Linked DNA regions of Homo sapiens. The protein of the gene in region 4 interacts with the protein of the main gene of each other region in a pairwise test. Each region holds a gene or a part of one and is shown on either strand. Other genes may lie near its edges.

Region 1 (2,827 bases), on a different chromosome or scaffold from region 4:
AGTTTGAAGATTCAAGACTATACAGATCATTAAGCAAATATTGAAAACCAAGCTATGGGAATGGAGACAAAAACTAATATACAACCCCAGCCACCACCTGTTGTTGTTAGGGTTTCCTGAGGTCCCAGTGCTATGGGAAGAGCTGACTTCTAACACCTGACTACTCAAGCTTCTTAACTAGATTCTCTGCCATCCTGGGGCTGTAGCCTAACCTCTGGTGGCAGAGCAGGTGGAGATGACCCAAGAAACTTACAACCTCAAACCAGGATGTCTTATTCAAGACTGAATTCCAACCTCCATGGGGCACTGAGTGCTCTGTCCTGGAAGGGAACAGGGTAGCCCCCTGCCGCAAGAGGCAGATGGAAGAAAATGAGGCTGCTTGCTGTGACAGGAACTCATGGGAACGGGAGTACAATCAGGGTGCAGTCTCTTTCCTCCTATTCCATCCTGACCCACTTGGAAGGGAACTATTCTACGGTTCCCCCAGAGATCCCTACAAAACACCCAGGCAATCAGAGGAGACACAGATGAATCAAAAGCAGGGTTTATTTTTCTATCAAATCCCCAATCCATGTTCCAGCCAATGGATGAAGGGTGAATCAAGCCCCACATAGACTCTTGGTAAAAACAATTCTAACTTTCTAAAAAAAAAAAAAGCCAACACACTTTTTTCTTTCTTTTCAAAAAGCTCCCAGGCCTTTGGGAACAGCTGAAACAAATTCATATCCTGACTAGGTCTGTTTTCTCTTAGGTATTTGGATGGTCCCTCTCTGCTGCCACTTCTGCACAGATGAGGCACTGATAATGGCCTGCAGGTCACTCACAATCCTAGCTCCACATCACTCCATGGTTTGATAACCTAGAACCACGTTATGATTTCCATTTATAATGCCCTAAGAACAGCTGAAAAGATCTGTATTAAATTCTGCAAATCTTTATTGAGTGCCAACTATTTGCTGGGCACAGGCTAGGCACTGATTCTGCTGGTTCTGAGAAACATAAATGGTACCATAGGGAGGTGTTTCCTCCTAAGTGGCAGGAGGATGTTTGCTGGGAGTTAAGTGAACCAATTCCTCCTCTGCTTACACCACGTGGGGGTAGGTCCAGAACTCAGGCCTTGGGAACATATGCTGTGCTCTCTTCTACAGGCGCTGTGTGGAAGAACCAATAGCAGTTGTTAAATAGCTGTGGAATTTCCTCCACAATCCACATAGTGATGTGTCTCCAAGGAGCTCTGGGTCATGAGGCCAATGTATGAAATCTTCACTGAAGTTCTAGGGAAAAGAAAACCAAGAAGAATTAATTATGTTTGGGGGATGAAATAAGCCAGAAAAATGTCCCAGGAAATTTTTTGCAAGTTCAGAGAACAATACCCACGGGCCCCAGGCACATATCCTCATGGTTATGTAACCAGGAGGCCAGAAGATCTTTCCACTTTCACAGAGATACTGTGCCAGGAGGTGGCCTTCCAAACAAGGCTTCTCAATCGAGAATGATTTTACCCCACAGGAGACTTCTGGCAATGCCTGAAGACATTCTGGGTTGTCACAACTAAGGGATGGAGGGTTTACTACTGGGATCTAGTGGGCAGATGCCAGGAATACTGTTAAACATCCTATAATGCACAGAACAGCCCCCTACAACAAAGGTCTGGCCCAAAATGTTCGTAGTGCCAAGGCTGAGAAACTCTGCTCTAACCCCTCATATTTCATGTCTGCAGCAGAGTCTTGTCACTTGCAAATTTAACAGCCATGCTTCCAGAAAACAACCCTAAAGGTCCATGACATGTGGTAATTTGTGTGGCTAGAGAGGAAGTCTGGTCAAATGCCCAGTACTTAACATCTTGAGAAAGCTTTTCTGTTCATGACTGTCTCATTAGGATTCTGAGGGGATCAAGTGTTTAGTTAAACTAGACCCATTTTATGGAGAAAATGTTTGACTGCTCAGGGTGACTGGTGATTTGTGAAGGGCATGTGGACACTGTGTTTAGAGAACACCAAGGGTCTACTGTATCTGTGCCTGTGAGGCACAGGGTGTCCCCTCGGGCTAGGTGCCTCTGCCCTGTGGTCACACAGGGGCCTCCTGAGCAAAGGTGGTAGGCTCACATGGCCGGACAGGCCATCGGGATAGGGAAGAGAGACGCACCGCATGAAGATCACTATGTTGTGCACCAGGATCTCAGGTACCGTGCAGAAGAAGCTACCAAACAGCAAATATGGAAATAGTCAGTTTTTTTTTTTTTAAAGCCTCAGTAGAAGAGTGCAGAGTTACACTGTCCTGTTTGGGGTGCCCCCCTCCCCCTTCCGACCTAAGTGCTGCCAAGGCTTGTCAGCTCTCAGTCCCTGCCACTGTCATTTTCATCCTCCCACAGCGTCATACCACTTTCTGTTTTTTCAAACCCATCACATAAGTGCTGGAGCTTGGTAACGTTTTTAGTGGCTTAATGTTCTCTTTTAGAAATTCCAGCACTTCTGTCACATATCAAATAATACATTCTTCAAATACACACATAATAATAATACATTCTTCAAATAAATCTCAAGACATCCAAAGCCAGGGAACCTATAAGTCAAAAGCTGAGATCTAAGGCAGGACCAGGCCCCAATCAATGGAGTATGACTTTGAATCCCTTTCCTCCAGTAGAGAGCACACACAGAGAGAACAGTGTCCTTACTACACATAGGAAAACGGTCCTCCCATCTCGGCCTTCCCGGTAAAATTCACCTGAAAATAAGATACCAGAGTTGGTCTGTGGCCAAGCAGGCTTGACACAGAACAGTATTATTATTAGCAATCCAAAGACCTTGGGTCATTCTTCCATCACATG
Region 2 (8,008 bases), on a different chromosome or scaffold from region 4:
AACAGCAAAAACTAAAAGCAAATGGTATTCAAAGCTTTGCAAGGGCAAAGTCCCAGGTGGTGAGTGCAGTGTATGGGTGGGGCTGAAAAGAGGAAATGGGGTGGAAGACTGCATTGAGGCAATGGATGGGGACAGAAAGACCTTTTCAGCTGCTCTGCTGAATAGCATTTTCAAACCTTGCAGGGGATTGTAATTCTCAACAGGCCAGAAACTTTTCCCCAGAGCCAAGACTGGGGTTCAGAGGCCAAGTGACTGCCCAGCCTACATAGCAGGTATATAGCAAAGCCATGATTTCAATTTGGTCTTTCTGGCTATATAAGTCCTGCTCTTTCCAGTACATCATGCTGAACTAAGTTCTCTCTTACTCTTTTTAAAAAGAAAAGATCTCAAACTTCTGAAGAACATCTCAGTTTTCTGAGAAACTCTTGCTAAAGGAAAAGAAAGAGAATGAAGTGGCTGTTGCCCTGTTCTCTGAATGGTCGTAGGTGATTCACTTCAGGGAGCCTGCTGTCTTGGCATGATTCCACTAATGGTCAGAAACCTCCTGAATATTGATCGAGGTTTCCTCTAATTTCCATCCAGACAGACAGTGGAGTGATGGGTATCACAGGGTGGGACTCCTGGACCTTATGTGGGACAGAATGAATGCAAGAGACCAGACTTGCTCCTGAGCAAGTTCCAGGTAGGACCCCTGAATGTCTCCCTGGACACTCTTGTTCCATTCAAGGTGACAGCAGGATCTGCTTTTCCCACACTGTTCCTTAGAGCCCAAAGAGCCCCTTCCACTTGGTAGCCAGCATTCAATGGGCAAGGGAACAAGTCTCCCTTTCTTTAGATTTTGTCTTGGCTCATGTGAAGATTCTGTATATAGAATAAAATATTTTTCCCATTGACTTCCTTCACTGAGCACAGATTTAACTCAGAAAGAGTGAAATAAAATTAGCTTTATTTCACTCTTTATGATTAGAACAGTAATACATGCATTTTTAAAAAATCAAAACTAAATACTAAATCTAGAGCACGGGTTGGCAAATTATGGCCTGTGAGCTGGCCAACACTGTTTTGGTAAATAAAATGTTATTGGAACACAGCCATCCTCATTCGTTTACATATGGTCTATGGTTGTTTTCCTGCTACCACAGCAATGGCATTGAGTAGTTACGGCACACACCTGAAAAGCTTAGCCTATTTACTCTCTTGCCTTTTACAGGAAAAGCTTGCTGATTCCTGAGCTAGAGCTAGAGAAGCAATGAGGACACATGTTTATTCTGACCCTGCAGAAGTTTGTAGTTCTGACACATTCCTCTATAAATAGCTGTTTTCAGAGCTGTAAAAACATTCAGCATTCAGCCAGACAATAAAGAGGCATTACAGTCCTATGGGCAGGAAAACAATTCTCTCCAAATTGTTCTTTTCTTCAATCTGCATGTTATTGCCCTTCTTAAAGCCAGGCTTTTAAGGAAGAGGCAAGCATGTGGGGTCTTGAGAAGGCTAGGTGGTACCTGGTCACCCAGACATGCAAGTGGTGTTGGAAACAGGCTGCGTGACCTCAGAACATGTCAGCCTAGAGGGCAGTAATATTAGGACATCTTCACAGGCTTTCCAGAGCCACCTCTATAGAATCCTGGGGTAGTGGGGTGACTGATATGCCAGAGACCAAGAACAACAAAGACAAGGAGGACTCACCTGCCTGTTCAGTGACTGCATCTGTGAGGAGATCAAAAGCCAGAGATTAGCACACAGCATTTGCCCTCATAATTTATAAATTTATATTACTCTGGTAAATTGCTCAAAAACTTCTTTCCATTTTCCCTTTCTTTTCTATTTCCCTAATCTCTTATTACTAACAATTCAATCTCCCTCGAGCACACATCTAACTGTCATTCATTGTAGTCAAAAGGCAAGTTGCAAACCCAATGCTTGACTAAAGGGATTGTCGAGAATACCCATGTTGGATATTTAGTGACTCTCCTTGATTTCATTTTCCTTCCACCATCCCCACCACTCTATCTCACACTCTGACTTTTCAAGTGGTAGATAGACATGACAACACGATCACAAAGGGCTCATCAGGAAACATACATTGTGAGAGTTCCAAGAAATCAACAAATCAGTCTCTTTCCTATGGCCATATTTCACGTTAGAGCCCTTTGTATTCCAATAACAAATATTTATTTAGTGCCTACACAGCATAGAGAAAGGGATCTTATTTACTCTCTCACCCAGGCTGGAGTACAATGGTGCGATCTTGGCTCACCACAACCTCCACCTCCCGGGTTCAAGCAATTCTCCTGCCTCAGCTTCCCGAGTAGCTGGAATTACAGGTGCCCACCACCACGCCTGGCTAATTTTTGTATTTTTAGTAGAGATGAGGTTTCACCATGTTGGCCGGGGTGGTCTCGAACTCTGACCTCAAGTGATCCACCAGCCTTGGACTCCCAAAGTGCTAGGATTACAGGTATGAGCCACTGCACTCACCCAGGAATCTTATTTTCTAGCAGCAGCTGTCATCTCCCTCATTGTCCACGATTAAACAGAGGAATATTAGCAAAGGGTCTCAATGCATCTGCTGAACCCAAATCTTATAGATAACAATTGAATAATCGGTGTTCATGGAGGAGAAGGGCATTGCTAAATGCTAATATTATGAACATTTTACTATGAGAACATTATATTACTCAATGAGATCTAAGATATCAAAATAGCAATTCATGACCAGCAAATGGAAAAGTGGTCCACCTTGAACATTAAGCATTGTGCTTAATGCTTAATGGATGTGCTGCAAATTCACTGTCCTCAGCCTACTTCTTTGCATCTGCCTTTGAAGCCCAAGCTGCAGGCAGGACCTGAGCATCCCCACCAGTCCCTGGGCTCCAATAAAACCTCCAACCTTTTGGGAGCAGTAGACCTCATTCAGCTGCCACCTCACTTCTCAGTCAAATTATTGAACTCACCAAAGATGACCAGCAATGACCACAGCAGCATGAGGACCTAATCCAGCTATTTGAAAAGAGATGTACTCTTGGTCACCAACTGGAGACTCTGAGCAGGCGATGAAATGTGGTTTTCAGAATAGGTTTTGTATAATTAGCAAAAAAGGAAGTAGAATAGTGCCACTATGTTTAACCATTATCTTTGTCCTGGAAGGGCTAAAACAATTATAGCTGATCCTCTCAATGCCAGAGAAATTTTGTAACTTGACCCTCATTATGATACCTAGCATTTACATATGGGTTGCAATGAGTCAGACACAGTTCTAAGTGCCTCATGCTTACAGAGTTATTTATTACCTTCAGCAAGTTTCTGAATTGGCACTATCCCCTTTCACATGAATAAGGAAATTGAGGCACTAGTAAAGGTAAGTGTCTTAGTCCATTGGGGCTGCTATAAAGAATACCTTAGACTGAGAAATTTATAAACAACATAAATTTATCACTCATAGTTCAAGAGGCTGGGAAGTTTAAGATCAAGGCACCAGTAGATTCAGTGTCTGATGAGGGCCTGTTTCTCATAGATGGTGTCCTCTATGTGTCTTCACATGATGGAAGGAGCAAACAAGCTCCCTCAAGCCTCTTTTACAAGGAGACTAATCCTTTTCATAAGAGTTCCACACTCATGACCCCTAAAAGGTCATGTAATAAAAGGTGGGTACCTTTTATTACTATTGCATTGAGGATTAAGTATCAACATAAGAATTTTGCCAGGACACAAACATTCAGATGATAGCAGCCAGTAAAATGACCAAGATCAGCTTAATCAATTTCTAGTAGTAACAGATCTGGGATTCAAACCCAGGCAGCCCAGTGTCACAGTCTGGCTCTTAAACATTGTGCCCTATTATCTTGATATATTGCTTCTCAAGGTTCATAAAATAATAAGGCCATTGTTTCAATAGCTCATATTTCTTAAGTAAAATTTTTCGTAGTCATTCGATGACTTTCTAGAATGAGATTTTACTAAACTTCAAAACACTTGCACTATATTGCTGAAAACATTGCCATCTTTCTAATCTGTAATCACAACATTGCCTATTTCTAATCTGCATTGCTTTTTGTACCCCAGGCTGATCCTAATACAGTTATCTCACACAAAGCAAAGCGCGTGTTATGTGAACACCTATTATCATGCTCACTTTGATTAGATGTAGTCCCAGTAGATGTTGTCTCATCAGTGAACCTTATGCAGGATGAAACTCTAAACCAAAAAATCACAGGTGCTTATAAATGAGGGACTGACTGAAAATATTCATAGACTCAATGTTACCTGTTCAGGTACTTAACATTTACCTGAATACTTAACATTGAATTTTTAACAATTGGATACTTAACATTTTATTCTCACTATTATCATAGTTTTACTTTGAGAAAGGCTAATATTTATATGTGATGGTCATTAAAGCCTTGCTTATAATAATGTAAAAAGAAAATACTAAAAATATATCACAAGGAGAGATGTGTGTTAAAAATAAGTTATGTGTCAAATGCTGTGGAAAACCAAACAGCCATTAAAATAATTCTGTGGAATAATATTTAATAGCAAGATAAGATGTCTAGGATATATGATTAAGAAAAAAGTGGGCTGGGTGCGGTGGCTCACGCCTGTAATCTCAGCACTTTGGGAGGCTGAGGCGGGCGGATCACGAGGTCAGGAGATCAAGACCATCCTGGCTAACACGGTGAAACCCCATCTCAACTAAAAATACAAAAAATTAGCCGGGCGTGGTGGCAGGTGCCTGTAGTCCCAGCTGTTTGGGAGGCTGAGGCAGGAGAATGGTACAAACCCGGGAGGCAGAGCTTGCAGTGAGCCGAGATCGTGCCACTGCACTCCAGCTTGGGTGACAGAGCAAGACTCCGTCTCAAAAAAAAAAAAGAAAAGAAAAGAAAAGAAAAAAGTGGCTGCAGAGTGCACTTTATCTGCTGCACATTATCCCCTGCTCTCCAATAAAAAGTGTCTGAGACAATTCGCACCACAGAGTTACTGTAATTATATCCAAAAAATCTAATTAAAGCTGATTTTTATTTTCCTTATTTTGCTTATCTGTGTATTCTAGTATTCTTACAATAAACATATGCTATTTACGTACTTTTTAAAGATTCATTATAAGAAACTAGGTTTTATGGCCTCTCTCATCTTAAAGTGTTGAAAACAATACTACTTTAACTTTCTGCATAGGCAAACGGTTTGTATGTGTTTGAAAGTGTAAGTTACTCTTTCCCAGGACCAAAGCTAGTCACTGATCATCAAATCTTGCCTACTGAATGGGTTTCTAGGTGGCCTATAATTCCTTCCCATTCTGACCAACCTGGAAGCTATAGAAATTTTGTGGATGGGAGGGAATTAAGGAAAGGAGTACAAATAGGATCATGAAAAAGTTGATGGTAAATTGATGGTAGGTACAAGTTTTTCATAGACATCAAGGAGATTTTTCAAAATAATCCATATCCCTTCACTGATTTCTATATACCCTCTATGGAAATGTGGCCTCTTCAGTTAAGAATCAATATTTCTTAAGGTGTTACCAAATGATATGAGGTAAAATTCACAGTTGGTATAAAAGGTGCAGGTGGAAAGCAGCAGTAATGAGGTGTGTGGGCCACAGAGGTGGCAACAAATCCTCTAAGATGGCTAACATGTTTCATGTGGGTGCTACTCTGTATTTGACAGACGGCAGTAATTTACAAGTGAATAGGCATATCCTGGAAGCGTAGCTAAACTTGAATGCACAGTAGGCACTGTGACCAGAGATTAAGAGGCTTAATAGACACTTGGTGGGGGGTGGGGAAAGTAACTTAAAAATTAAGGCAATAGTGGCAGAAATAAAATTATGTTTGTAGGTTTGATCAAAGTGAGAGATAATACTTTTTGTGCAAGGATATTTTGCCACCAACAGGATGGAGTCACAGGTATCAGAAAGAACCAGCATTAGACATACATATAAATGCCTCTTGGATCAACCAGGTAAACCCTTAACATGGAGATTCCACAGGTGGTAACATACTGAAGCCTATTTTGCCAGATGCAGAGCAAGAGTCATCTCTGTGAACCGTGTTCAATGTCTTGAATGGAATACAAAATACAGTGCCAAGTTGGGGCATGCCAGAACTGAGACAGAGACAAATAGAGTCTTCATAAAATATGTCAGAATAAAACAAATCACACTTCCTGCTTGATGAATTTGATTACTAGGACAGTTAGAGTGGGAAAATAAGAAAATGAAACAGGCTAACTTCCAAGATCCCTAGATATAATCTTTTGAGCTTGGGGTTCCAAGGTCACTATGAGAGAATTAAATGTCATAATATATATAAATTACTTGTCATAATAATTGCTACATAAATGGCAGTAGAAGTAGTCATAGTCATGGTCATCATCATTGTTATGGCAGTAGTGGTAGTAGCAGTTTTAATAATTACAATAATTACCTTGAGCAGCATGATATGTCTTTGTTGAGTGGGGCTTTCCCTAATAACTTCCTGTCCAAGATAGTAACTAGATACTTTCCGAGTTCTATGGAGGTGATGTTGTTTGTTGAAGAACTTCTGGGACAGAACTGGCTAGACCAAATGTTGTCTATGCAGACACTCTCCAATGTAATTTAGACAGAGCCAGGCCCTTCTGCCCAGAAGATTTTTTACAATTAAATTTATTATATCTAGAAGTCCAGTAGGGCTCTGCATGGAGCAAATAGCATGAAAGAGAATTCAGAATGGGTATAAATGCTTGGAAGCTAGTGGTCATTACCTCCATGGAAGATAATGAAGATAGTGAAAGCCCAGAGAATCAGAGAAGGCCAAGAGTAAGTTGAAGTTTTAGATAGTGTATCTCTAGGGGACTGGAGTTTAACAAAGTTCGATTTTTTCCTTCGTCATGAAGATTATCAGTTCCTTTAGTAGCAATGGAAACTATGGTAAATCCTTACTAAAGAAGGTATTACTATTCCTACAGTGGAGGTGGAGGGGAACCCAGCCTTGGTGTCTGAGGGGAGGCAGAGAGGCAGAAAGACTTAGGGAGGCTCATAGAAGACATCAGAGCAGCACCTGTGGTGGTGAGCAGTCTTCTCTCCGTGTATGAAAATACTTCCTGGCAAGTTGCCTGGGTTCCATGAGAACAACAGGTGGGGAGGGATGTCTAGAGGTCAAATTCAGTTCAAAGCTTTCTGCTTCCTGTTTTAATTGTATATGTGTGGGTTTTCCAGAAGGTGGATGGGTTATGACTTTTCAGGCCAAGGGGAGCTGTGAACCATGGGTCATCAACTACACCAACCGTTAGTAGAATCACCCACAGCAGCTTTCTGTGGGTGTCTTTCTGGCAGGCTGGTGAGTATCAGTTGTAGTAGAAGAAAAAAGCAAGAACCAAGATCGAGATTACACTGATGGCTTTCTGTCTTGTTTTACCATGCTTTTTTTTTTTTTTTTTTGCTCACTCTTCTAACACACTCTGCTAATAACTTTTTCACAGTTCATAAAGATATGATTCCCAAGCAGAATCATTATTCATTCAGTCATTAATTCATGCATGCATGAAGCCATGCATTCAGTTACTCAGTGGAGTTTTATTCAATGCCCCTGCTTGATGGGCAATACACTTGGCACTAGACATACCCAGATAAAAAGATATGGTCCCTGCCCTGATGGAAATTGCATTCTAGCATCAGAAGACTAATAGAAAAGAGTAAACATACTTGTGTCCCACTGCTGTGGTGGAGCTCTGTACAGCATGTGAATGGACACAGTGGAGATTAAGGAGTAAAGGCTTCCAGAAGAAATGAATATTGAGAGATAGGTAGGTTTCAATCAAGCAAATAAGACTTAGGAAGATGGAGAAGTTCCAGGCCTAGAAAGCATCAGGAGCATGGTAAGAGGTCAGGGACCCATTCGGGCTGCTCAGGTATCCACAGGCACTTTAGAATGGCAGATCCAAAGGTATGAGGAAGAGCATCACAAGAGGTAAGGCCCAAAAGTGGGAAGGTGGGAAAATCTTTATATTTTCATAGGGTGGAGGAGACACC
Region 3 (7,044 bases), on a different chromosome or scaffold from region 4:
GTGGTCTTGTCTTCTTTCTTTCCTTCCTTCCTGTCTTCATTTTAGTGAAGGTGATTTTTCTCTGGTGGTATGTTTTAATTTCTTTTTATTTTTTATGTATCTGTTATAGGTTGGGCTTTCTTTATAGGACAGTGAAAACATTTGAAAATTGATAGTGAGGGTTGTTGTTCAAATCAGTGAATATACCAAAAATCATTGAATTGTATACTTTAAATGGGTGAATTGTATGGTATGTGAATTATTTCTTAATACTATTAAAAATATCAAGAACCTTTCTTTTTCTTTTCTTTTTGTTTTCTTTTGAGATGGAGTCTCGCTCTATCGTCGAAGCTGAAGTGCAGTGGTGTGATCTCGACTTGCTGCACCTCCGCCCTCCGGGTTCAACTGATTCTCCTGCTTCAGCCTCCCAACTAGCTGGGACTACAGGCACATGCCACCATGCCCAGCTACTTTTTGTATTTTTCATAGAGACGGGGTTTCACCATATTGGCCAGGCTGGTCTTGAACTCCTGACCTCGTGATCCACCTGCCTTGGCATCCCAAAGTGCTGGGATTACAGGCGTGAGCCACTGTGCCTGGCTTCTCAAGAACCTTTCATATGGCAAAAGATACCATAAACCATATTAAAGAAAACCCAGACTTGGATTAATTATACGTAACATATAAAACTGTTAAAGGCTTAGTACCCAAAACACAAAAGGAATTTCTAAACATCAATAAGAAATAGACTAACACCCTATTAGTAACTTACCAGAGGATTCAGGCAGTTCAGTTAAGATTGGGCCTAAATGGCTGATTAAAAAAGCGGAAAGATGCTTTGTTTCAGGGAGATACCATTTAAAATAATAGAGATATCATTTCACATCTGTCTTTTTGGACCATATTAATATGCCTTAGGAAATCAAGTGTTGGCACAAATCTCATGGAATGGAGCAGGCTCCTTCACTGCTGGGGAAGTGTAAACTGGTTGATCTCCTTGGAGAGTGGTCTGACAATATCAGGTTGAAGACAGGCCCTACTCTGTGACTTTGTTGTACTACAGCCACTCTTGTACCTGTTGCAATGCGCTTGGTGGGTGAAACAGTAACAGGAACCCAGCTAGGCCCCTCAGACTGGAATAACTCAACCACAGAACAATTACATATATACATCAGTGAAATTCAACGAACTAGATCAACAGAGATCAACAGAGATGTCAGAAAAACAATGTTGAGTGAAAGTGGCATGGAAAATGTGTTGCTGTTGATTTTTAGGGGCTGTTGATGCATCTTTTTGTCTCTAAAATTTAAACGCTGATACAGACTTTTTAAAAAATTGCTTTTTGCTAATGTTGTCGCAGTTTGCTCGTGTTTATAAGTGCTCATTGTGTGCCAGCTACTGTTCTAGGGGCCAGGGGCCAGGGCTGTAGCTGTGAACAAGACAGGCAAAATCTCCACTCTCACTGGGCTCATAAATGAGGGATGACAGATAGTAAACAAGTAGGAAAATAATTGTGCTCTTGGTTGATGCTAAACAATATAAAGGAAATAAAGCAGGGGCTGAGGGTGACCAAGGAAGGTGTGCAAAATCTCCGCTCTCGTTGGGCTCATAAATGAGGGATGACAAACAGTAAACAAGTAGGAAAATAATTGTGCTCTTGGTTGATGCTAAACAATATAAAGGAAATAAAGCAGGGGCTGAGGGTGACCAGGGAAGGTGTGCTCTGAGGAGCTGGCTATTAAACAGAGACTTGCATTTTTTTTTTTAATTGAGACAGTCTCATTCTGTCCCTCAGGCTGGAGTGCAGTGGCGTGATCCTGTCTTACTGCAACCTCCACCTCCCAGGTTCAAGTGATTCTCCTGCCTCAGCCTCCCTAGTAGCTGGGATTACAGGTGTGCACCACTATACCTGGCTAATTTTTGTATTTGTAGTAGAGGCGGGGTTTTGCCATGTTGGCCAGGCTGGTCTCGAACTCCTGACCTCAAGTGATCCACCCGCCTCGGCCTCCCAAAGTGCTGGGATTACAAGCATGAGCCACTGCGCCCAGCCATAGATGTGCGTTTTAAGAAGAGCAAACGTGGAAATGTTTGGGGAAAGCATCCAGGCAGATACAAAATTCTTCAGCTACATCATGGTCAAAAATGGCAGGAAGCATTAAATACTTATGAATAAACTTAATAAAAGAAGTGCAAACGTTAACACTGAAAACAGAAAACATTATTCAAATAAGGAAGCTAAATAGATGGAAAGGTCTGCAAGGCTCTTTGACTAGCAGACAACGTTGTTTGTTAAGAGAGCAGCACTCCCCAAAGCGATCCACAGATTCAGTGCAGTCCCTGTCAGTCCCAGCTGATTTCCTTGCAGACATTGACAAGATGATCCTGAAGAATAGCAAGTCCAGTGTGGCCAAAGCCCAGGAGGGAGGAGGGGAAGTGGATGGTGATGCAGTCAGGGAGACTGGCAGGGCTTCTGAGTCCTGAAAACCCTGTGGGCCATGACAGGGAGCTATTGCCGACCTCTCCTAGGTCTGGTAGAAGCCTTAGGAGCTTTTAAGCAGGGCTGGGATGGCTGTGAGCCATATGGCAATGAGCAGGACAGAATGTCGAATAAATAGAATTCAGCTTTTCAGTGGCAGGAAATGAGAGCATCCTCACTTTCTTTCTGTACATGTTGTGTATTTGTGTCACATTACTGACCCACCTAAACCTTTTCTTAAGTGATACGGAAGTAACAGTATTTATTATAGAATATTTAGAAGATTGAGTCTGGGTACGGTGACTCACACTTGCAATCCCAGAACTTTGGGAGGCTGAGGCAGGAGGATTGCTTGAGGCTAGGAGATCAAGACCAGCCTGGGCAACATAGCGAGACCCCATCTCTTAAAAGGTAATAAATTAGCCGGGCACGGTGGCTCACGCCTGTAATCCCAGCACTTTGGGGGGCCAAGGCAGGCAGATTACGAGGTCAGGAGTTCGAGACTAGCCTGGCCAATATGGTGAAACCCCATCTCTACTAAAAATACAAAAATTAGCTGGGTGTGGCGGCACATGCCTGTAGTCTCAGCTACTTGGGAGGCTGACGTGGGAGAATCACTTGAACCCAGGAGGCAGAGGTTGCAGTGAGCCAAGACTACACCATTGCTCCAGCCTGGGTCACAGAGTGAGACTCCGTCTCAAAAAAAAAAAAAAAGAAAAAAAAAAATTAGCCGGGCATAGTGGTACACACCTTTAGTCCTGGCTACTCGGGAGGCTGAGGTGGGAGGATAGCTTAAGCCTAGGAGTTCAAGGCTGCCGTGAGCTATGATCACGCCACTGCACTCTAGCCTGGGTGACAGAACGAGAGACCCTGTTTCTTAAAACACACACACACACACACACACACACACACACACACAATATTTAGAAGATTCAAACTGAAAGAGAATATGTATTCAGGATCCTGCCACTTTGAGGTAATGGCAGTTAACATTTAGTGTTTCTTCCTTCTAGTCTTTTGAATGAAGTTATGATCCGACATTTCTCAAATTCAGTAATGAGTGCCCATCCCACCCAGCTCACCCCCCAACACCTCAAAAGGAAACAAAAGAATCATAGCTTTCCTGTTGGCAAGTCAGTCCTTGAAGCTTCTGATTCATTTCTTTCAGGTGGAGCTGATCAGAATAATGTTCAGCATCAACCCCCTGGAGAACCTGAAGGTGTACATCAGCAGTCGGCCTCCCCTGGTGGTCTTCATGATCAGCGTAAGCGCCATGGCCATAGCTTTCCTGACCCTGGGCTACTTCTTCAAAATCAAGGAGATTAAATCCCCAGAAATGGCAGAGGTATAGTATGCTCTGACTTCTCCCGGGCTGGCTGGTCCTTGTGCAGTGGGGCAACACCCTGTGGCTTGCCATATAGCTTTCTTGGGTTTTGGCCTTTCTCTCCTAGTGAGAAAAATCAGTATTTATTCAGAATTTTCTGTTTTCCATCTCCCCAGGACTCACTTTGTTAGGAAATACCTAGATGGGTATTGTTCGATTTAAATATGCTACCAGTTTCAGTTAGACTATTTTAGCAGTGAAACATGCACTTTGGAGAGTACATTTGTAAAATGATCTGTGTCAAAAAGCTGGAGACCTCACCTCTGTAATATTCCATCTCAAATGGGTTCATTGCTGTTTTAGAAAACTGAACATTTGGTATTTTAAAACCACATATCATCATGGAGTTTTATCAGCTATACTAATGGTTTTTTTCATGAGATAAGAAGGAATCCTAAAGAAATTCAAAAACAGGACCTAATTTCCAAATATATTTGTTTTTTGTTTTTTGAGACGGAGTCTCGCTCCGTCACCTAGTCTGGAGTGCAGTGGCGTACTCTCAGCTCACTGCAACTTCCACCTCCCGGGCTCAAGCGATTCTCCTGCCTCAGCCTCCTGAGTAGCTGGGATTACAGGTGCCTGCCACCACGTCTGGCTAATTTTTGTCTTTTTAGTAGAGACGGGGTTTCGCCACGTTGGCCAGGCTGGTCTCGAACTCCTGACCTCAGGTGATCCACCCATCTCGGCCTCCCCAAGTGCTGGGATTACCGGTGTGAGCCACCGCATCCAGCCTAATTCCTGTCTTTTAGTAGATTCCTTGGGTGCCTTCTCTTATTCTATTTCCTTCTTCTTGGGTTTGTTGGTGGGTGGAGGTGGGGGTGGGAGTGGGGCTGGGAGTGCGTGGTTGCCGCATTGAGTGTGCCTTGCAATGGAGAGGAGAGTTGTGTTCCATGTAATTGAGATCGTAGCTTTCTCTCATGCTCTAGGGCATTCTAGATCTTAAGTGATCTTGGCAAAAGGAACCGCCTACACATGTGAGCTCTTTCTAGCACAGTTCAAGTAACGAGTTTTAGCTATTTCTACCATGTAACCCTTTCAAAGAGTTTATTACTAAGAGACATACTGGCTGGCTTAATTCTCTCTCTTTTCTGACCCTGCCTCAATCTTTAAAGGTTGTGAAAACAGGCTGCCCCCACATCAGGGCTGAAAATGAATATTCTACTCAAAACTAAAGCTGCACAGCCTCCTGCCATTTCTTTCCCGCAGAGCTTGAGTCCATGTTGAGCACTTGGCCAAGGCCAGTGGTTGCACTGAAGCCTGGATAATTAGCCCTTAATAATCCAAATTAGGCCTGGCATTGGCTTTAGCCAGCTGTTCAACGTGGACTCCAGCTCTGTAGGAACGCATTGTTGAGATGCTGCGGAACTTTGGTTATGATTAGTTTCGTGATTTTTGTTTTCAAATGAGGATCCTAGGTTGTAGGAAAGGCAGTGGTGTATGGGAAACATTTGGGGCTGTGAATCAGAACTTAATGCTGATTTTACCTTGAACTAGAATTGGAGAGTCCCTAATTTGCCCTGGGCCTCAGTTTCTTCATGTCTAGGATTATGAAGGACTGAGACTAGAATGTTCATTTTCAACCCTAATGTACTAGAATGGTCAGTTGAGTTTGTAGGTGTTAGGGAAAATGTAATTTGATAGATCCAGTTGCAGTCTTACTAAATGTCACATACAGTTAAACTGATGCTGTAAGGGTAGACTTACTGGGCTGGGTAGGGGTTGCTCAGATGACTTTTTTTTTTTTTTGAGGTGGAGTGTCACTCTGACACCCAGGCTGAGGCTGGACTTCAGTGGCGCGATCTTGGCTCACTTCAGCCTCTGCCCCCCTTCAAACGATTTTCGTGCCTCAGCCTTCCAAGTAGCTGGGATTACAGGCATGCGCCACCATGTCCAGCTAATTTTTGTATTTTTAGTAGAGACAAGGTTTCACCATGTTATCCATGCTGGTCTCGAACTCCTGGCCTCAAGTGATCCACCCTGCTTGGCCTCCCAAAGTGCTGGGATTACAGGCGTGAACTACCGTACCTGGCCTCAGATGGCTTTTTTTTTTTTTTTTTTTGAGACAGAGTCTCACTGTGTCGCCCAGGGTGGAGTGCAGTGGCACGATCTCCTCTCACTGCAACCTCCACCTCCCAGGTTCAAGCGATTCTCCTGCCTCAGCCTCCCAAGTAGGTGGGATTACAGGCACACACCACCACACCCGGCTAATTATTGTATTTTTAGTAGAGACGTGGTTTCACCATGTTGCTCAGGCTGGTCTCGAACTCCTGACCTCAAATGATCCACCCACCTTGGCCTCCCAAAGTGCTGGGATTACAGGTGCGAGCCACCGTACCTGGCCCCTTCCTTTTTGAAATCGTTGCTGCTCTAAGGTGTCATCAAAAGTCCATAAGAAGGGGGGCAGTGTCCCAAATGAGTATTAGTATTCACTGCTGTTTTGTGTTCTAGAGAAAGAGAGCAAGGTGTATGGAATTGACCTTTTGGGACATTATTTTAAGGTGACTTTATTTAAAGAAAAGAATTGTAGTTGCAAAATGAGTTTGGATTAATGCTTTTCTTCAAGCGTTCTTTTCAAGTTTGGTTCTGAGGCTAGATCATTTTCTCTAAGTGTAATATGCTGGATTTTTTAAAAAGATTTTCTTGAATAAATTGATTTGATTTCACAGTTTATTGAGTATCTTGTGCCAGTGAAGAGTTCATATTTTAGGTTGTGAATATAAAAGTGATTAGGAAAGCCACATCATGCTGCCTGTGAAGAGGGTGGTGGCCGAGTTGTCATGATCTTAAATGATCAGCTCTGAATTGTAGTTTGCTGATGTGCTGCGGTGCCACACTGGGGTCTTACCTGTATTCCCGCAGTGGGAGACAGGCGCTGCTTAACACCCATTTCTCTTTCTTTCACTTTCCCAAAGGATTGGAATACTTTTCTGCTACGGTTCAATGATTTGGACTTGTGTGTATCAGAGAATGAAACCCTCAAGCATCTCACAAACGACACCACAACTCCGGAAAGTACAATGACCAGCGGGCAGGCCCGAGCTTCCACCCAGTCCCCCCAGGCCCTGGAGGACTCGGGCCCGGTGAATATCTCAGTCTCAATCACCCTAACCCTGGACCCACTGAAACCCTTCGGAGGGTATTCCCGCAACGTCACCCATCTGTACTCAACCATCTTAGGGCATCAGATTGGACTTTCAGGTATGCA
Region 4 (4,829 bases):
CTCCTTTCAACCCAGACATCTCAGACTTGAAACATGGCATTCACCCCTTGTCACCGTACTTCCTTTCACTCTGTAATTTCCTCTCCTTTCTCTCCTATGGAGTGGCCCGAGGAAATTCTAAAATAATGTATTATCCACACAATGGGAACAAAGCAGACTGCCCAGGAACACGCTGATGAGCTTCACAATGAGTGAATGAAAACTTGTGCACCGTGTTTTCTTTTGGTGGAAGGAGGTTCTAGTGGGGCACAGACTGTTGTGTCTTGTAGGAAGGAGAAGCTGCCCCTGGCTGGCACTTGGCCAGTTTCCAGAGAGAGGGGAAGCCATCTGGGCAGGTAGCTGGGAGGGTGGGCTCCCCAGCACCGGGCTCTGAGAGTGCAGTGGCCTGGCACACACAGTGTCCGTCGTCTGAACTGCCACCTGATGCTGTCTCTTGAGATTCAGGTTAAGTCAAAGGATTCCTCAGAAAGAAAGCTGAATTGATGGTATTCTTGATGCTGAGGAATTCAACCCAAACCCAAAAAACACCCAACAAATGTATTGAACATTAAGACATTTTATAAAGTATTTCACAGGGTTATCGTCTTCCACCATGGACCTCTGGAAAGATCTGTTGGGTGAGTTTTAGTCCCCATGACATGCAGAACATCCATGAAGACTTAAAACATGGCACAAGATGGGGCGCTCGGGAGAGCTTGTGGACAATACCAACAGGTAGTTCTCGAGAGCTGCTCCAGGGGTCAGCAGAGGATCTTTCTTTCCTTCTCAGGTCACGGTCGCCACTTCCCACCCCCGAACAAGAAGGTCCCCTTTCACAAACAGGAGGTGACCCTAGCAGACAGCACAGCAGTTGGAGGTTAGACACAGCAAGCTCCCAACCCGGACGCGAAGGCACACGGGAGAGTAAACACAGCACCCACGAGCAACAGGGCAGGGCTTTTTTTTTTGGGCAGTGGGGGGGTGGTTGTTTTCTTTTTTCCACCATCAAGGGCATTTCTGTTTTCTAAAAAGTTATGCCGGAAAGTGGGGCGGCCAGTTAACACCATCTGGGTTTTCAGCTCAAGTTCTACTGCGGCTTTATGAAGACTTCCATCTGATTAAAGAGAACACCGCATGGACCACGTAGAGCAGAGTGGCTATGTAGGAGAACACCTGGAACCAAGAGAAATGGCCGTTAATGGGTTTGTGTAGGGAGGGCGAGGCACAGCGTCTGCACTGCATCCAGCCCCACGTGGCGTAGGGGGGGCCAGACCCAGAGAGCTTGGGCTGTCATTGCTTCTCACCCTCACATGGACGCCCTCCCTGCTGAGCCCAGGTGTGCACCAAATCCTCTCAGTACAGAGCTCCATGTGACCTAACAGTCTCCTGGATCTGGTGTGGAAGGTAAGACTCTCCACTATCACCCAGCATCACATTCGTCTCAGCTTGAGGTTTCGGCTGACTTGAGATGGAGTCCTCAAAGACCCCTCCAATGAAAGCATCTCAGGCAGGTAACTCTCCAGGGACAACTTCCTCCCCCAACACCAGTGAGACCAGCGCCCTCCAGCTGTGGTCCTGGTAGCTCGGTTGAGAGATTGTAAATACCTGGGTTTGCTGGCCCTGGTGAAAGTCTCCATGCTGCCTGGACATTCTCACCCTATCATTATTTTGTTTTAGGATTCTTAATATCACAGGTGTGGCTGAGAGAGCCAGACTTCATAGGAAGTGAGGGACAGAGAAGGGGAGAAGGGATTTTGAGCTTTTGTCTAAAGGAGGGGCCTTACTGTTGGGACCATCCAGTCAGCCACTGTGGCCCTTGGAGCGATGGCCCTGCTTTCTGGGGACTTGCTGTGTCCTCCTGGGCACTGTCTGCTCCCATCACCCTACTCCCTGAAGGCCTGCCTGCTGCCAAGTCCAATCTCTGCACCTGGTTTTGTGACCTTGGTTAGGGGTCAAGAGTTTCCAGCTCAGGCACGACGTCCATTTAGGGCGGCTACGCCTCTGTGACTCCTGAAAATGCTCATCAATCCCAGCCCTCAGGGTGCCTGCTCTCCTGCCCCTACACCTGGCCAAGCCCTTTCCCTCATTGCCTGGAGGCGGTGAGTAAGCTGAATTATTGAATAACACATTTAAGAGAACGTATCTGGGCAGGAGCAGTCAGACACCAGTGGGCAGCCCTCCATAAAAGGTGGGCATTCCAGACCAATGAAAGCCTTTGGCAGAAGCACCTTGGAAGTCCCCAGCAGGAAGAGCAGTGGAGACTCATTTTCCAAGTGGGGTCAAGAAATGGCCCACTGGGAACACGTAGAGCTGGGCACGAATGGGCAAATTTTGGCTTCAGAAAGCCCTCTCCCTAAACTGTAGCCATCACTGCCCACCATTGTATAATCTAGAAACCTCCAGATTTCTCCAGAAATTTCCATCTCGCCCCAGGCGACTTCCACCCATCCCTGGGGTCCCTTTGGCAAAGCAGCTCCGCCACCCACAAAGGAGAGAGGGAGGAGCTCAGCTTGGAACAGACCCTAATTAGTAGCCACACAGTGGATGTGAGGCAGGCTGGCTGCTTCCAAAACCAGGCTGTGTGAGAGAGGGTGTGAGGTGCCTCCCTGTACCCAAGTATCCCCTGGACTGGGCATGCTGTGGTTGGGCGGGTCTGGGATTGAATCCTGAGTAACGAACTTCTTTCTCTCTCACAGACGGATGCAGTTGATACCGTGAGTTGAAAGGTGTGACTTTACATCGAACGCCGTGCAGATTTCCCCTTGGTGGTTTTATCTGGGCACATCTGCCAGCTGAGAACACTCTGGTTCTCAATTCTAACGCTCCTGTCTGCGTGAACATATTCGTGTCTATCCAACTCAACTAAAAAAAAATGGGAACATGGTCAGTCATGGGATGGATAAATAGATGTTGGTCTATTCCTACAAGGGAATACTATACAGTAATGAGAACAAACAACCCACATCTACACCCAGCCACTTGGGTGAGTCTCACAAACACAAGGGTGAGAGAAAGAAGCCACACATGAGTACCCACTGTATAATTCCACTTATATGAAGTTCAAAGGCAGGCAAAACTGAACATGGTGCTAGAAATCAGAATTGGGTGGTGGTGGGGGTGCACAGTGATGGGGACAGGACTTGAGGGGATTTCTGGGAGTTGTTTATCAGGCCCTAATTCTTAGTCCAGATGCCAACTACACTGGGGAGTTTGCTCTATGAGAATTCATCAGACTGTGCGCTGGTAACTGGCCCTAATTCTTAGTCCAGACACCATCCACACAGGGAGTTCGCTGTATGAAATCCATCAAGCTGTGGGCTTGTAACTGCACACCTCTCTGGCTGTGTGCTGCCTTTGATAAAAGGTAAAAGAGGAAAGTCAGAAGGCAGTAGAGCCTAGTGGTTCTCAACTAGAGACCTGCCCAGCGGGAAGGGGTGTTCATTCCCCTAGCTGGGTTTTTCCATCAAGTGCTGACCCACTAACCACATCCCATCTACATTTCGCAACCTTTGTTCACAACAATTTTATGGAAATTATTGTCAGACACTTTGTTGATGTTTGTTAAAAGAGAAGGCTTGGCTGGGATGGGGGAGGTATGAGGCAGTCTTGGGAGAGGGAGATGAGATGGAATTGTGTGAAGAAGATGGAGGGTGGCTCACCAGCCTCCCCAGGAAGGAAGATCAGTCAAGATGCCCCCTGGCTGTGCTGCTGCTTGGAAACCAGCCATGTTGGGAGATGGGCCAACACGGGAGATGTTTCCACACCGCGGGACCCCTGGGGGGATGCCAGGATCCTGAGGGGGCCCTTTTTAGGGGAGCGATTGTAGGCTGGGAGCTTGAGGGCAGTGTGTGGTTTCCCCAGGGCAGGGGACTGTGCAAGGGGACCAGCAAGTGAGGCTTTGAGGGATTTTCCCCTGGGGCCCTCCTTCTGGGAGTGGGAAGAGGCACTTCACCAACCCCATTTCTAAAGCCTATCTGTGGGTCTTCTCTCAGCCTCTGCCCTACACTTTCCAAAAAGAGGGGATGACACAGCTTTGGCTACTAGAGCTGGTATCTCAGGATCTGTCACCACATTCTACCTTGGGATTTGCATAATTCATAGGTTAAGTTCTAGAGATCTGAAGAGTGCTCTTTCTGAAACTTCTTACTTTTTAACAATACCCATGGTCAGAAGCATGTTTTATATCGTAGACTGGTGCAAGGGCACACATGCACAGCTCTGAAAAACATGTGATGAAACAATATATTCTGTTACCCTGTCATTCTGATCCAGTCCATTAAGAAGAAAATCCACCTGGCCTCAGCGTCCCCACCCCTGGCTGGATGCTTCAATGGACGACCACTTGGGGAGAGTCAGGAGACCCATGAGGTCAGACTCACAGCCCCAAACTGGTGCTGAGAGTGTGGGGACTGGGCCTCCAGCGTTGATGCCAGGTCCCACAATGACTGGTGATCTTGGGCCAGTCACACTCTCTGGCCCCACTTCTCCATCTGTGAGATGGGTGTCATAATCCTGGGTTGTAGGGTTGCCATGGATGTTAAATAAGATTGTTCAGGGAGCACTCGGACAGGGCGCTGGGCAGCCGCATCCCCTCACACATCTGCCCTCTGCAAAGCCCACGCAGGCCTGGGGCATGCAGCCCTGGCCGGACGACTAAGCGGAGTCTTGGGCACAACATGACACTGCCCTTCTCGGGGGCTTTCCTGCTCCAGGCATGAAGGCAAGGTTTGACCTCACTCAAAAGTTAGTGAACTGAAAACAGACCAAGGGCCTAGGCAGCCTCCACACACACCCTGCCAGCCACGGAGCCGCCCGCTGTGGACACAGCCCCAGGTGCCCGGACTCACCAC

What was found.
Region 1: the proteins of MAL (region 4) and TMEM106C interact in binary tests that used the Homo sapiens proteins (3 or more experiments, as listed by UniProt).
Region 2: the proteins of MAL (region 4) and FCRL2 interact in binary tests that used the Homo sapiens proteins (3 or more experiments, as listed by UniProt).
Region 3: the proteins of MAL (region 4) and TMEM248 interact in binary tests that used the Homo sapiens proteins (3 or more experiments, as listed by UniProt).

The regions. Positions count from the first base shown.
Region 1 is NC_000012.12:47,966,580-47,969,406, reverse strand, and holds the end of TMEM106C (transmembrane protein 106C), read right to left. Parts: intron 2,725-2,827; coding exon 2,675-2,724; intron 2,200-2,674; coding exon 2,146-2,199; intron 1,275-2,145; coding exon 1,178-1,274; 3' UTR 529-1,177; downstream 1-528.
Region 2 is NC_000001.11:157,774,089-157,782,096, forward strand, and holds the start of FCRL2 (Fc receptor-like protein 2 isoform 1 precursor), read right to left. Parts: upstream 3,045-8,008; 5' UTR 2,986-3,044; coding exon 2,955-2,985; intron 1,708-2,954; coding exon 1,687-1,707; intron 1-1,686. UniProt on the Homo sapiens protein: May have an regulatory role in normal and neoplastic B cell development.
Region 3 is NC_000007.14:66,938,225-66,945,268, forward strand, and holds part of TMEM248 (transmembrane protein 248), read left to right. Parts: intron 1-3,623; coding exon of another isoform or gene 3,624-3,641; coding exon 3,642-3,800; intron 3,801-6,751; coding exon 6,752-7,037; intron 7,038-7,044.
Region 4 is NC_000002.12:95,049,704-95,054,532, reverse strand, and holds the end of MAL (myelin and lymphocyte protein), read right to left. Parts: coding exon 4,827-4,829; intron 1,153-4,826; coding exon 1,078-1,152; 3' UTR 541-1,077; downstream 1-540. UniProt on the Homo sapiens protein: May be involved in vesicular trafficking from the Golgi apparatus to the cell membrane. Plays a role in the maintenance of the myelin sheath, and in axon-glia and glia-glia interactions.